Homo sapiens: one gene and its partner. The protein of the gene in region 2 binds, or shares a complex with, the protein of the main gene of each other region. Each region holds a gene or a part of one and is shown on either strand. Other genes may lie near its edges. A codon is read from its position in the direction of its gene.

Region 1 (7,560 bases), on a different chromosome or scaffold from region 2:
GCTCCAAAATGATCTCCTTTGACTCCATGTCTCACATTCAAGTCAGGCTCATGCAAGAGGTGGGCTCCCATGACCTTGGGCAGCTCTGCCTCTGTTGTTTTTCAGGGTACAGCCTCCCTTCCAGCTGCCTTCACAGGCTGGTGTTGAGTGTCTGTGGCTTTTCCAGGTGCATGGTTCAAGCCATCAGTGGATCTACCATTCTAGGGTCTGGAGGATGGTGGCCTTCTTCTCACAGTTCCAGTAGCAGTAGGCAGTGCCCCAGTGGGGATTGTGTGGGGGGGCTCCAACCCCACATATCACTTCTACACTGCCCTAGCAGAGGTTCTACATGAGGGTTCCACCAGTGCAGCAAACTTCTGTGTATCTGCAGGCCCAACACCACATGTAAGCCACCAAGGCTTGGGGCTTGCACCTCTGAAGCAAAGGTCTAAGCTGTACATTGGCCCCTTTTAGCCACTGCTGGGATGTGGGGCACCAAGTCCTGAGACTGCACAAACCAGCAAGGCCCTGGGCCCCAACGACAAAACCATTTTTTCCTCCTAAGCCTCCAGGCCTGTGATGGGTGGGGTTGCTGTGAAGACCTCTGACATGCCCTGGAGACATTTCCCTCATTGTCTATGCTATTAACATGTGGCTCCTAGTTACTTATGCAAATTTCTGCAGCTGGCTTGAATTTCTCCTCAGAAAATGAGTTTTTCTTTTCTATCCCATAGTCAGGATGCAAATTTTCTAAACTTTTATGCTCTGCTTCCCTTTTAAATGTGAGTTCCAATTCCAAATCATCTCTTTGTGAATGCATAAAATTGAATGCTTTTAAGAGCACTCTTGAATGCTTTGCTGCTTAGAAATTTCTTCTGCCAGATACCCTAAATCATCTCTCTCACATTCAAAGTTCCACAGATCTCTAAGGCAGGGGCAAAATGCTGCCAATCTCTTTGCTAAAGCATAGCAAGAATCACCTTTATTCCAGTTTCCAGCAAATTCCTCATCTCCATCTGAGACCACCTCAACCTGGAATTCATTGTCCATATCCCTATCAGCATTTTGATCAAAGCCATTCAACAAGTCTCTAGGAAGTTCCATACTTTCCCACATCTTTCTGTCTTCTTCTGAGCCCTCCAAACTGTTCCAACCTCTGACTATTACCCGGTTCCAAAGTTGCTTCGACATTTTTGGGTATCTTTACAGCAGCACCCCACTCTCTGTGGTACCAATTTACTGCATTCGTCTGTTTTCATACTGTTATAAAGAACTGCCCAAGACTGGGTAATTTTAAAGGAAAGAGGTTTAATTGACTCACACTTCAGCATGGCTAGGGAGGCCTCAGGAAACTTACAATCATGGCAGAAGGTGAAGGGGAAGCAAGGAACCTTCTTCATAAGACAGTAGGAAGGAGAAGTGAAGGGAAGAGCCCCTTATAAAACCATCAGATCTCATGAGAACTCACTCACTATCATGAGAACAGCATGTGGGAAACAGCCCCCATGATCCAATTGCCTCCACCTGGTCTCTCCCTTGACACATGGGGACTATGGTTATTATAGGGATTACAATTCAAGATGAGATTTGGGTGGAGACACAAAGCCTAACCATATCAGCCCTCCTGGGTATGGACTCTTCTGGACATGGACCTTCCTGGGCATGGACACTTTTAGGCATGGGGCCCTCCTGTGCATGAACTGGCCTGGGCATGGACCCTCCTGGGCATGGGCCTTCCTGGGCATGAGGATCTCATGGGCATGGCCCTTACTGGGCATGGACCCTCATGGGCATGGGGTTCTCCTTGACATGGTCCTTCCTGGGCACAGGGCTCTGTTGTGTATGGGCCCTCCTAGGCATGGACCTTTCTGGACATGAACCCTCCTGGGCATGGACCCACCTCAGCATGGACCCTCCTGGGCATGGAACCTCCTTGACATGGACCCTCCTGGGCTGGACCTTCCTGGGCATGAACGCTCCTTGACATGGGCCCTTCTGGTAATGGATCTTCCTAGGCAGGGACACTCCTGGGCATGAACCCTCCTAGGCATGAATCTTTCTTGACATGGAGCCTCCTGGGCATGGAGCCTCCTGGACAGGGACACTCCTGGACATGTATCCTCCTGAGCACAGGGCCCTCTGTGCACGTGACTCTCCCGGGCATGGGGCCCTCCAGGGCATAAACTCTCCTGGGCATGAACCCTCCTGAGCATGGACCCTTCCAGGCATGGGACCCTCCTGGACATAGACCCCCCCCAACCAGGCATGGACACCCTTGCGTATGGACCCTCCCGGACATGGGACCCTTTTGGGCATAGAGCCCTCCTGGGCACGGGACCCTCCTGGGAATGAGGCCCTCCTGCTCATGGACCATCCTGGGCATGGACCTTCCTGGGCATGGGCCCACCTGGGCATGCACCCTTTTAGGCACAGAGCCCTTATGGGGCTCTCCTGGGCATGGGCCCTCCGGAGCCTGGGTCCTGTGAGATGCCATCAGCCGCATGCTTGTGCCATGTCCCTGCCAGAACATGACTGCCATCTCTCTCCAGTCCTGTGGAACATGGAACAGGGTGGGGCGGTGCCTGTGGACATGCAATATGGGATGACAGGATGGGGTTTGAGCCCAGGCCGTGCTGGCCCACACTCACAGGAGGTCTCTGGAGTGCCCTGTCCTTCCAGCTTGGGTTTCGAGATGCCCTCCATGCAGGAGTACAGGAGAGGCAGAAACCAGCAGGACATCGTGCCTTTACCTGAGTGGGCACCCAACCCCTGCCCCTGCCAGACATGGTTTCCAGCCTTTCCCTGAAGGAAGGAGAAGAGGGCTGGGTTCCTTGACAGACCCTGGCCACCCCCTTCACTGCCACCCACCCCAACCCACCCTCACCTGCTTGACCTTGGTCACCCCCCCTTGCACCGCTGTGCAGCCCCTACATGGAGATCAGCTGCTCCCAGCCCTGTCTTGAGCAAGGAAACCTGGGCTGGGGGCCTCTACTGTGGTCCTGCCAGGAGCTTCCAACAGCCCCTGCTCACGCTCCAGGTGGGTGGGGGTGGGAAGGGGTGAAAGGGTCCAAGGGGGACCTCAAAGTGAAGAGCCCCGAAGGGTCCCTGGAAGATGTCCGCCAGCCCTCTGAGCCACGCGCTCCCTCCCTGCCTCCCACCACACGAGTGCGAAACACAGAGGGCCCCACTAGGACTGACTCTGGGTGGGGAGTTTTATTCCAGCCCCGAGGGGCAGCGGCAGGTGTCATCAAGGCTGCACCCTGGCCAGCAGGAACCCACTCTGGCCAGGTGAGCTGGTTCTGGGGGTGGCAAGTGTGAGGCCCCATCCCGGGGGTCTCTGACATTGGCCTTGCTCTGGCCTCAGTCCTCTTGCCCTTGTCCCTGTCCCTCTCTCTTCCCAAGAGAGCAGGTACCTGGGCCGTCCCTGCCCACCCAAGGCTCCAAGAGAATACACAGTGAGTTCAGGGCTGATCTCGGGCTCCTTGCTACTGGTTCCAGCTTCCCCTGGCAGGCAGCACCTCCCGGAGCCCCCGAGACCTGGCCCACAGCGCCCACAGCACGCCTCTTAGGCGAGGGTCACGCACAGAGAGTCCTGGCTTTTGTGGGCCTTAGCACTGGGAGCCACGGCCAGTGCAGACGCCTCCTGGAACTCCTTGGCCATGTAGTAGTAGCAGATGGCGTCCAGGCAGCAGTTGGCATCTGAGAGCTTGCTGGTTATGTACAGGGCGCGACGGATCGTCTCCAGGAGGGCACAGGCGTTCCAGCCCACTGCGAGGCGCACTGTCAGCCCCACGTGCAGGGGCAGGAAGCAGACCACGAACACCAGGAGGTTGGCCCAGACCATGCGGGCAGCCTTGCGGGTGGCCTCTGCCTGCCCCACGTCGGTGGGTGGCCTCTGGGCCAGGGCAGTCACCACCTTCAGGGAGCAGAAGACCACCACGGCCAGGGGCAGGTAGAATCCCAGCAGCGGGAACGCCATGGAGTTGAAATTGTGCCGGGTGCTCCTGAAGCAGAAGCCGCCCTCCTGAATCCCCAGGAGCCAGCGAGCCACCAGGGAGCCGATGACCAGCACCCAGAGGACCGCGCACACGGCCGCAGCCTGCCTGGGGGACCGCAGCCCGCGGGCACGCAGCGGGTGCCGCACGGCCACATAGCGGTCCACGGCGATGGCCGTGACCAGGCTGATGCTCATGTACCTGTTGGTCAGGTAGATGCCCTGGGAGAGCTGGCACAGCGGCGTGTCTGAGGTGTCTCGCAGGGAGTGCAGCACGAAGGGCAAGGTGCACAGCAGGCAGAGGTCGGCCACCGCCAGGTTGGTCATGTAGATGCGGGTCTCCGTCCACTGCTGCATGCGGCAGCAGAACACCCAGAGCGCCAGGCTGTTGAGCAGCAGGCCTAGCACCAGCAGGACGCCCAAGTAGGCGTAGAAGCCCAGCTTGATCGCTGGGGGCCAGGTGAGGTCGCTGGAGCCACAGGTGTTGTAGGTGCCATTCATGGTCCTGGGGCAGCACAGGGAGCCGGAGGTCAGCAGAGAGTGAGCAGGGGGAGCAAGGCACTGCCCCCACTCTGCCCACCTCTGGGCAGGGATGTGGGAGGAGGTGAGCCCCGACCCCACACCCACAAACACAAAACTCCTCAAAGAAAGCATGGGTGCCGTAAAGAACTCCAAGTCACCCTTGAGGTCTAACCCCTGGACAGATCCTCTTCCCATCTCCTGAGCTCTTCTCTCCTGGGATCTGCCTGCTGTCATGGGGCAGGAAAGGAGGCAGAAGGAGCTCCACGTTCCCCTCCAGTCCCCAGCCCAGCAAGCCCTACCCTCCAGAGCGCAAATCCTGGACAGGGAGCCCAAAGGGCCACCAGCCTTACCCAGCACACAGCTCTTAGCAGGGAGGGCTCAGAGGCAGCAGCACCTGTCAGCCCAAGGACGGGAAGACCAGGCTCCCGGACAAAGCCCAGGGTGGCCCCTCCACCCCTCCTGGCACCCGGCTGCAGGAGGCACCCACATTTGACTCCACACCTGCATCAGCCCTTCCCCACAGCAGAGTCCAGGACAGCTGGGACTCTGGCCTGCCCCTACCTCCCTGTGAGCCCACCCACCCAGTCCTGAGCTCTGGAGGTCCTGCCTGCATCAGCCTGAGGCCCCATCCCAGTCCCACACCTGGGATCAGGGATTCACCCCTTGAGCTCCCAGGGGCCAGAGCCTGTGACGGCAGCCCTGCCCCTTCAGGCCCAGTCGTGCTGCTCAGGGGCCGCCCAGGGGTGGAGCTGAGTATCCTCCTCTCCGTCACTATCAGGACCACCCACAAAGTCACCCCTCCACTGTCCACGCCAGCCTCTCGCTGTCCCCAACACCCTCCGCGACATAGCCCAGGAAGGCTGAGACCAGCCCCGGCTGGACCTGGGCAGGGTCTGGTGTCCAGGACACGGGCTAGAGTCATCCTGACTCGGCCACCCCTGCAGCTGGGCAAACTTGTTTCCTCATCATAAGGGGTGCTGGTGTCACACGCAGGCAGGTGTGAGACGGAGCTGCTGGTGAGCGCCCAGAGTCCAGGACTCACAGCCACACGTCCCACCACCTGGGTTACTCAGTGGGTCCAGGAAGAACCCGGAGGGGTGAGGGCGGGAGAAGCCTCTCCCCCAACCATCAGGCTGTCCTCTGGGGCATCCTGCAGTGGCTTCCTGCTGGGCTGGTATGGAAGGTGGGAAGGACTCAGCCCACAGCGAAGGGCCTTCCTCCTCCCTCTGCCTCCTCCCTCTGCCCAGAGGAGCACAAAAGGTCCCCCAAATCAGGAGGGGAGAGCGCCCAAACCCCGTGACTGCAGCTGCTGGGGACCATTAGTGCTGGGACGCATTTCCCCACGGTGGTCCCCGGGAACTCCAGGTCCCCAGTCCATGAGGGATGGAGGGCACAGGTTTCAGACAGAAACGAAACATTCTGCCCCCTGGCTTCATTCTGTCTCCTTAGATCCCACCTCTGGTGAAGTACAGCAGATATTTGCTGACTTCCAAGTTTCAGGAGCCCTTCCCCCGAGTGCAAAGTGCTGCACGCCCAGTGGTCTCTCTCCTCCCTTCTTGAGGGTCCTGCTTGCTTTCTCTCTGATTCATGAGCAACACTTCACCCTCGTTCCAGGGACTTTTGGAGGGACCCTGAGCCAGGCCAGGCTCCGAGGACATCCCCAGAACCCACTGGAACCAATCGCTGGGATCTTCCCTTCCTGTTGGGCCTATACTCCTGTGGCAGCCCCCGCTGGGGGCCAGGAGATCCCAGAACCTGCTCAGAATCTACACCTCAGAGGCACCTGAGCTGGGCAGGCACTGTGCGTTGGGGAGGGCTCCGTGCGACTGGCCTCCTACTCTCCCCACCTGAGTACTTGAATCCACCAGAAGTCCAGGGCCAGCCTTGGGCGGTGTGCAGACCTGGAGGGGGAGGGGGTCTGCACAGCTAGAGGGCGATTCTTTTGCTGCCCCACCTTGAGTAGAGGCAGCCTGGGACCCTGCCTCGTGGGAGGTGAGGACCCGAGGGCTCGTGTGCCTAGACCCCTTCCCATTGCCCCAGCTTCCCCCATCGCTCCCCATGGCTGCCAAGGGGCTCTCAGGTCACACATACCCAGGGCTGCAACTTTCATACTAGCCTCGGTGTGGCCCAGTATTTTGTGGGGGAATGTTTAACTGCAGGCAGGCACGGTGGCTCATGCCTGTAATCCCAACACTTTGGGAGGCTGAGACAGGAGGATGACTTGAGGCCAGAAGTTTAAGAACAACCTGGGCATCACAGGGAGACCCCGTCTCTACAAAAAAAAAAAAAAAAAAAAAAAAAAAGACAGAAAATTAGCTGGGCTGGTGATGCGTGCTACTCGGGAGGCTGAGGCAGGAAGACGGCTTGAGCCCAGGAGGTTGAGGCTGAAGTGAGCTATGATCCCACCACTGCACTCCAGCCTTAGGAGACAGAGTGAAACCCCATCTCTAAGAAGAAGAAAAAAACTCTAACTACAACATTTAAATTTTCCTGTTTATAATAAAACAAACACTGAACTATTAGGGAGAAAAATGCAAATGTTGCAAGAGTTTCGAGGTGCACGTAGGCTTCGAAGAAGTGCCCTGTTCATGGGTCCTTGTCTCGCCCGTGGAGTGCCTCCCAGAAAAGTTCAGGAAATCAAGGCCCAGGCTTTAGCCCAGATGGCATGGGGCCCCTGGGAGCTAACATGGCCAGCACAGATGCCCACCTACTGCCCCAGTCCCGCACAGGAATCTGTGTCCAGGCCGTGGACCGTAGCTGGCCTCCCGCCTCAGCTCCTCAGGCCTGTCTTCCTCGACAGACACCAGCACCATCAGCCTCAGGGAGCTCCCGCTGCCGGGGACCGTGGGGATGGGGCCCTTCCACTTCCTGCCCAGGAGGCTTTGGGGATTGGAGCCAGCAGCACGCCTCTGAGGCCCCGCTTCCCCTTCTGATGACAAGGTCACCCTCGGCTTCTGCACACAAAAGCAGAAAAGTGCCCTTTGATTCTGCACTGAGTGATCCAGGAGAGAAACCTGGCCATAGACGGGCGATCCAGCCACACCAGAGCCCCTCCCCAGCCCTTC
Region 2 (5,332 bases):
CAGCTAGGAGCACAGCCAGCCATTACCTCCAGCCATTTCCTCACACCTGCTTTGCAACACCAAGAGAAAGCCCTTCATTCTGTTTAGGGGAAGAACAGTACAAGCACAGCTTTATCTATCTGTCTGTCTATCTATTTACTTAGAGACAAGGTCTGGATCTATCACCCGGGCTGGAGTGCAGTGGCGCGATCTTGGCTCACTGCAACTTCCACGGCCTCCCGAGTAGCTGGGGGACTACAGGCCCATGCCACCATGCCCACCTAATTTTTGTAAAGACGGGATTTCACCATGTTGCCCAGGCTGGTTTCAAACTCGTGAGCTCAAGTGATCCGCCAGCCTTGGCCTCCCAAAGTGCTGGGATTACAAGCGTGAGCCACCACGCCCAGCCATAGCTTTCAATACATGCCAGGTAAGAAAAGGCATAAAGATGCCAAGTGATTTGACAACTGCTAACTTAGCAGGAAAGCGTAAAGGGAAAAGATGAGTAGTAACCACAGAAGGTGTGCTTGACACGATTTGATAATGATACTTTCTCTCTCTGGTTCCCAGACCCATAACCCAGTCTAATCATGTGAAAAACACCAAATTTCAACAGATGGGCATTCTACAAAATACCTGACCAGTACTCCTCAAAACTGCCAAAGTCCTCAAGCCTCTAATCCCAGCAATTTGGGAGACCGAAGCAGGCAAATCGCTTGAGCTCAGGAGTTCCAGACCAGCCTGGGCAACATGGCGAAACTCTGTCTCTACTAAAAATACAAAAAGTAGCTGGGTGTGGTGGCACGCACCTGTAATCCCAGCTACTTGGGTGGCTGAGGCAGGAGAATCACTTGAACCTGGGAGGTGGGGGTTGCAGTGAGCTGAGATCGGGCCACTGCACTCCAGCCTGGGTGACAAAGGAGTGAGACCCTGTCTCAAAAAGAAAAAACAAACAAAAAACACCTGCCAAAGTAATCAAAAACAAAGTCTGAGATAAACAGGAGTCTGTTAACTACCAAGAAGAGCTGAAGGAGACATGACGAGCGAATGTAATGTCGTGTGCTGGATGGATCCTGGAACACAAGTAAGGCATTAGGGGAAAACTAAGGAAACAAGAACAAAGCATGGGCTTTAGTGAATAATGTTATCAGTATTGGTTCATTAATTATGACAAATGTACCAAAGTAATGCAAGGCGGTAACTACGGGAACTATTATAAGGGGTGTGGAGTATAGGGGAACTCTGTACTGTCTTGAAATTTTTCTGTAAATCATAATCTAACATGAAGTTTATTTTTTTAAAAAAGATGAGTGGTCAATGTTGGTTTGTCTCCAAACATTAATTACAACAGACGTAACAGAATTATTAATATTGTCGCAGCTGGATGAACTGAGCTCAGGTACACCCTAATACAGTTTCAGTGGCCATAAGAGGAGCAGAGAAAACAAGTGGTTTCTCTTCCCCTATTCCCTTGTCAAAACATATTAAGTGTCTGAGAACTTCCTTGGAAGAAGTCCACATCTCCATTTCTAGTAAGAAGTTTCTAGACTAATATTCAAGCCAAGTGGCATTGGGATTCTGCTGAAGTAGATTTGTGCCTTAACTCAGGCCCTAGATGAAACTTTTGCTTTCAAACTTTTAGTATCTGCTTTACATTTTACAATTACCAAACTGTTAAATAACATCATAGTATTGAATTGTTTACAAATGTTTATTAAATGTCAGTAATTTTTACAAAGCAAATATTAATAGCAAGAGGCAAATGTTTTGCAAAATATGTACAAAAGTAAAAAGCTGTAATGAACTAGCAACTCATTTTATAAAATCAAACCATTCTTTCCACTTTTAGACCTCCTTTAGAAATAATTTATTGCCCATCCTGAACTAAAGCACTGACAAAAAAATTTACAACAATTATCAGATAATGTGCTTAGTTCCTGGAAAGTTATAAAAAGATATATGTAAAAAAAAAATCCTAAGCCACAAATATTTTATAGAGCTAATACGAGTCATGTTTTGTTAGGTACAGTATCTACGGGGTTATTACAAAATATACTTTTTTATAAGGCTTCTTGTGGTAAATGAGCTCTCACCAGAGTAGAGTAGTTTAGAAAAGCCATTTCAAACGTTTTGCGATTCTGCCTTCAAGTAAGAGGTAAAAGGTAAATGGCATAGTTTGTTGCACTGTTGCTTATACTGTGCAAGAATTAATCTCTACCCCTTTCTTTCCTAGTACCATCAAACAGGCATGATTAAGGACAATTTCTCACTTACTATGGCAAAAAATATTATATACAAGCTTTCTTAACACAAACCAAAGTCACATACCAAGTAGTATATGACGTTCAGTGATATTCACTGACTGAAATTTTATGCACACTGAGTTCCAGCATACTCTGATCCACCTGTAAACTTTCATCATCAACAGCAGATTTGTATATGTCACAAAACTCTCCTTATCAAGACATAAAATATTGCCATATCATTCATGCTTTCAAAACAATGTTCATATAAGCTCTCGCATTTGAAACCAGATGGTAAGACCTGAATGCTACAAGAGTGAACATAACTTAAATGCTAACTACACGTTCAAGTACAGACATAAGAATGCTAGTGGTACAAACACTGTACTCCAAATGATGTTGTTAATCACCTACCAGCCTAAGACTAGTATCTACTTGATGGAACTTGAAAAAGCCATAAAGTCCAACTTGTTTAAAATGTTCAGACTTAGACTTACACTTCAAGATCTAGTATACATTTATTAATAAGCCCTAACCTCGTACCATAAAAAAATGGGCATGTGCTGTATTTGGGACATGCGGACACACCCACACCCACCCACAATCTCTCCCCTCCTCATGTTTACTAGACTGAAAAGCCACCCTGTATCCTATCATTAAAAAACAAAACAAAACAAAACAAAACAGTGCTTTTAGTCAAGCAGCACAACACAAGGACAGATCATCTGTGATTAACAGAAGCGAACGCCTTAAAATGATGGGAGAGAGACAAATTAACTAGGTACTAAGTCAGATTTCCAAGTGAAAAAGACATGAGCAAAACTTCTGGTCTTAATTTCTCAAATAAAACTAAAATAAATGAAATGGTAACAGAGTGACTTTCTCTAAATTTATTAGGGAGTTTGTTACAAATGTTTGGGCTTTACAGGCATGATTTCACGGATTCAAACAAGAAATTAACACTGATATTTAGCCTTCTCATGACATACACAGAAATAACATTGCTACAAACTGCAATGGAGAGAATCTTGTTTCAAATGGCTTAGTTTGGGGTTTTGTCTAAATGTATCATTATATAATGAAAGCACCAATTTGAGGGTTTCTCAAATAGTGATTTGAATTTTAGGACATAACAGTGTAACATGGTAACTTTATTCTTCATATATAAATAAGGCATAATCGGATGTGTATTAATGCTGAAAATACATTTTATCAAAAGCATAAATACAAGTATTTGGGTACACATTGAAAGTTAGGACTTAACCAATTTCTTCTTACAAAAAATGATAAGGACATATGGTATTTGTTGAATCTAAATCAGCACTTCTAATCATTTCTGGTATTAAGGCGATCTTATTTCCTTCTACTTTAAACCAACCACTGCCACCAACTGAATAAGGATTTCCCTAAACAGCCTCAATTTGAGAGACTAACCAGAGGACCTTCTCTATGCAAATTACATGCCAATACACCTTAAAAGAAAATAAGACAAAAGTGAATGAGTTTTTTCATTCCATATTGCTTTCTTTGGTTGCAGAGCAATCCAGTGCCCTTTCCAGATAATAAAATTGAAATGAAGATTTCAATTTAATATTTGGCAGACAGCAACAATGCAGGTTATTAAAAATATTAAAGGGGCAGAGGCATGCTTTGAATTACTCAGATTTTCAGAAAACATTTGACAAAACCCTTTCTCTATAAAAGTTATGGTCTAAATTTATGTTGTTTTATAAGGCAACTGTATATACATTTCTTCAAGGTCAATGAAGACACTTGTGTGATATTTCCTCAGAATTAAATGAGAAGGCATTCAGATTTAAGAACAGAATGTAACACAGGATTAGGCACATTTTATTCCAAATCATAACCATAAAGATTTAGAAAATCAAATACATCAAAGAACTTTAAATCTAAATTACTTTTTTAGAGACTGGGGTAAGTTTGCATAGTGAAATTATGAGCACCTTTTCAATTCTGTTCACTAAATTTCATCTCTCTCTTCATATAGTGGTATTTCAAAAGGATTCAGTTTTCATGATACAGGTGTAAGACTCCTTTCAAACGTTTTTAAAATACAACGTATAAAAAAATGTGGACTGAAGCCTTTAGATTGAACTTAAAGTTCTACTGAATGTCAAAACAAGCCTAAGTTGAATATAAGTAATTCATTGCCTCAAAATATAGTCTAGATTTTAAAAGAATGTTGATTCTGAGACATTACATGCAGCAGGGAAGAAAACTGCAAATGCCCAAAATAACATGATATCTATTTGGTGTTTCAACACTTCTTGGTGGTAATTCAAAAGGGGGAAACTTGGTGATTTCTGCTTTGTCAGGCAATATCTATGGTTCGTATCACAGATCTTAACTATGACTTAAGTAAGATGAAGTGTCCTCTTTCTATAGGGATCTAACTTGAGCCCTCACTGGAGTCAAATGTTTTGGCCATTCAATTTGCTAAATGTATGGGTAAACTCTCCAATGAATAGTCCAAATGTTACTGTGCACATATTCCGATATTCATTAGCACTGCAATTATGCTAATTTTGTGAATTTAAACAATGTATTCTTTTTGGCAAGAAGCACTAGATGTAGAACTATTCAAACACGCATGAATGATACCATGATACCACGAACATGCACGATACCATGAACTTGCATCACGGTGCCGGGCTACGTATGTGTAGCTCATGGATTACCATGGCATGAAAATGCTAGAAGTTATATGGATACAATGATAGTGGAAGTTCAAATGTGAGAAAAGTCAGGTATGTCAAGAACAATCCCTGGTTAGTTCACTGAAAAGCCCCACTCTCGTATCAGACAGCAAGACAGAACAACAGCCACTGACTTGGAAAGGCTGGGTGATCCATAACGACCAATCTTTCAAGGACCAATAAAATACCTGAGTACACAGTCAGCTATACAGTAAAATGACAGATATCACAGTCTTAAAATTTTCAGGAAAAGTAGAAAAGCTGTCAGACTTTTCAAGCTGTCGCCAGCCTTGGACTTCTGTTTCTCTAATTGTAGCACTACATACAGCCTAGAAGATAGTATTTCAGTACTGCAAACCAGCCATTCTGATGAGTTCACTATGAATGTATCTG

Evidence for each region. The genes of interacting proteins can lie anywhere in the genome.
Region 1: the proteins of GNA13 (region 2) and GPR35 are in contact, whole or in part, in a cryo-EM structure (PDB 8H8J), measured with the Homo sapiens proteins. Residues at the interface, in NP_006563.2 of Homo sapiens: Lys46, Arg47, Leu48, Val49, Lys214, Asn215, Val216, Phe218, Arg331, Gln337, Gln338, Lys340, Pro341, Leu342, Tyr343, Phe359, Arg360, Asp361, Lys363, Asp364, Ile366, Leu367, His368, Asn370, Leu371, Lys372, Gln373, Leu374, Met375, Leu376; in NP_005292.2 of Homo sapiens: Phe45 (codon at 4,342), Gln51 (codon at 4,324), Thr53 (codon at 4,318), Thr55 (codon at 4,312), Met59 (codon at 4,300), Asp113 (codon at 4,138), Arg114 (codon at 4,135), Ala117 (codon at 4,126), Val118 (codon at 4,123), Pro121 (codon at 4,114), Leu122 (codon at 4,111), Arg123 (codon at 4,108), Arg125 (codon at 4,102), Arg128 (codon at 4,093), Ala197 (codon at 3,886), Leu198 (codon at 3,883), Arg201 (codon at 3,874), Pro202 (codon at 3,871), Thr204 (codon at 3,865), Asp205 (codon at 3,862), Gly207 (codon at 3,856), Gln208 (codon at 3,853), Ala211 (codon at 3,844), Ala215 (codon at 3,832), Met218 (codon at 3,823), Val219 (codon at 3,820), Ala280 (codon at 3,637), Lys281 (codon at 3,634), Glu282 (codon at 3,631).

The regions. Positions count from the first base shown.
Region 1 is NC_000002.12:240,626,867-240,634,426, reverse strand, and holds the end of GPR35 (G-protein coupled receptor 35), read right to left. Parts: intron 4,479-7,560; coding exon of another isoform or gene 4,475-4,478; coding exon 3,545-4,474; 3' UTR 1,268-3,544; downstream 1-1,267. UniProt on the Homo sapiens protein: G-protein coupled receptor that binds to several ligands including the tryptophan metabolite kynurenic acid (KYNA), lysophosphatidic acid (LPA) or 5-hydroxyindoleacetic acid (5-HIAA) with high affinity, leading to rapid and transient activation of numerous intracellular signaling pathways.
Region 2 is NC_000017.11:65,007,618-65,012,949, forward strand, and holds the end of GNA13 (guanine nucleotide-binding protein subunit alpha-13), read right to left. Parts: 3' UTR 1,672-5,332; downstream 1-1,671. UniProt on the Homo sapiens protein: Guanine nucleotide-binding proteins (G proteins) are involved as modulators or transducers in various transmembrane signaling systems.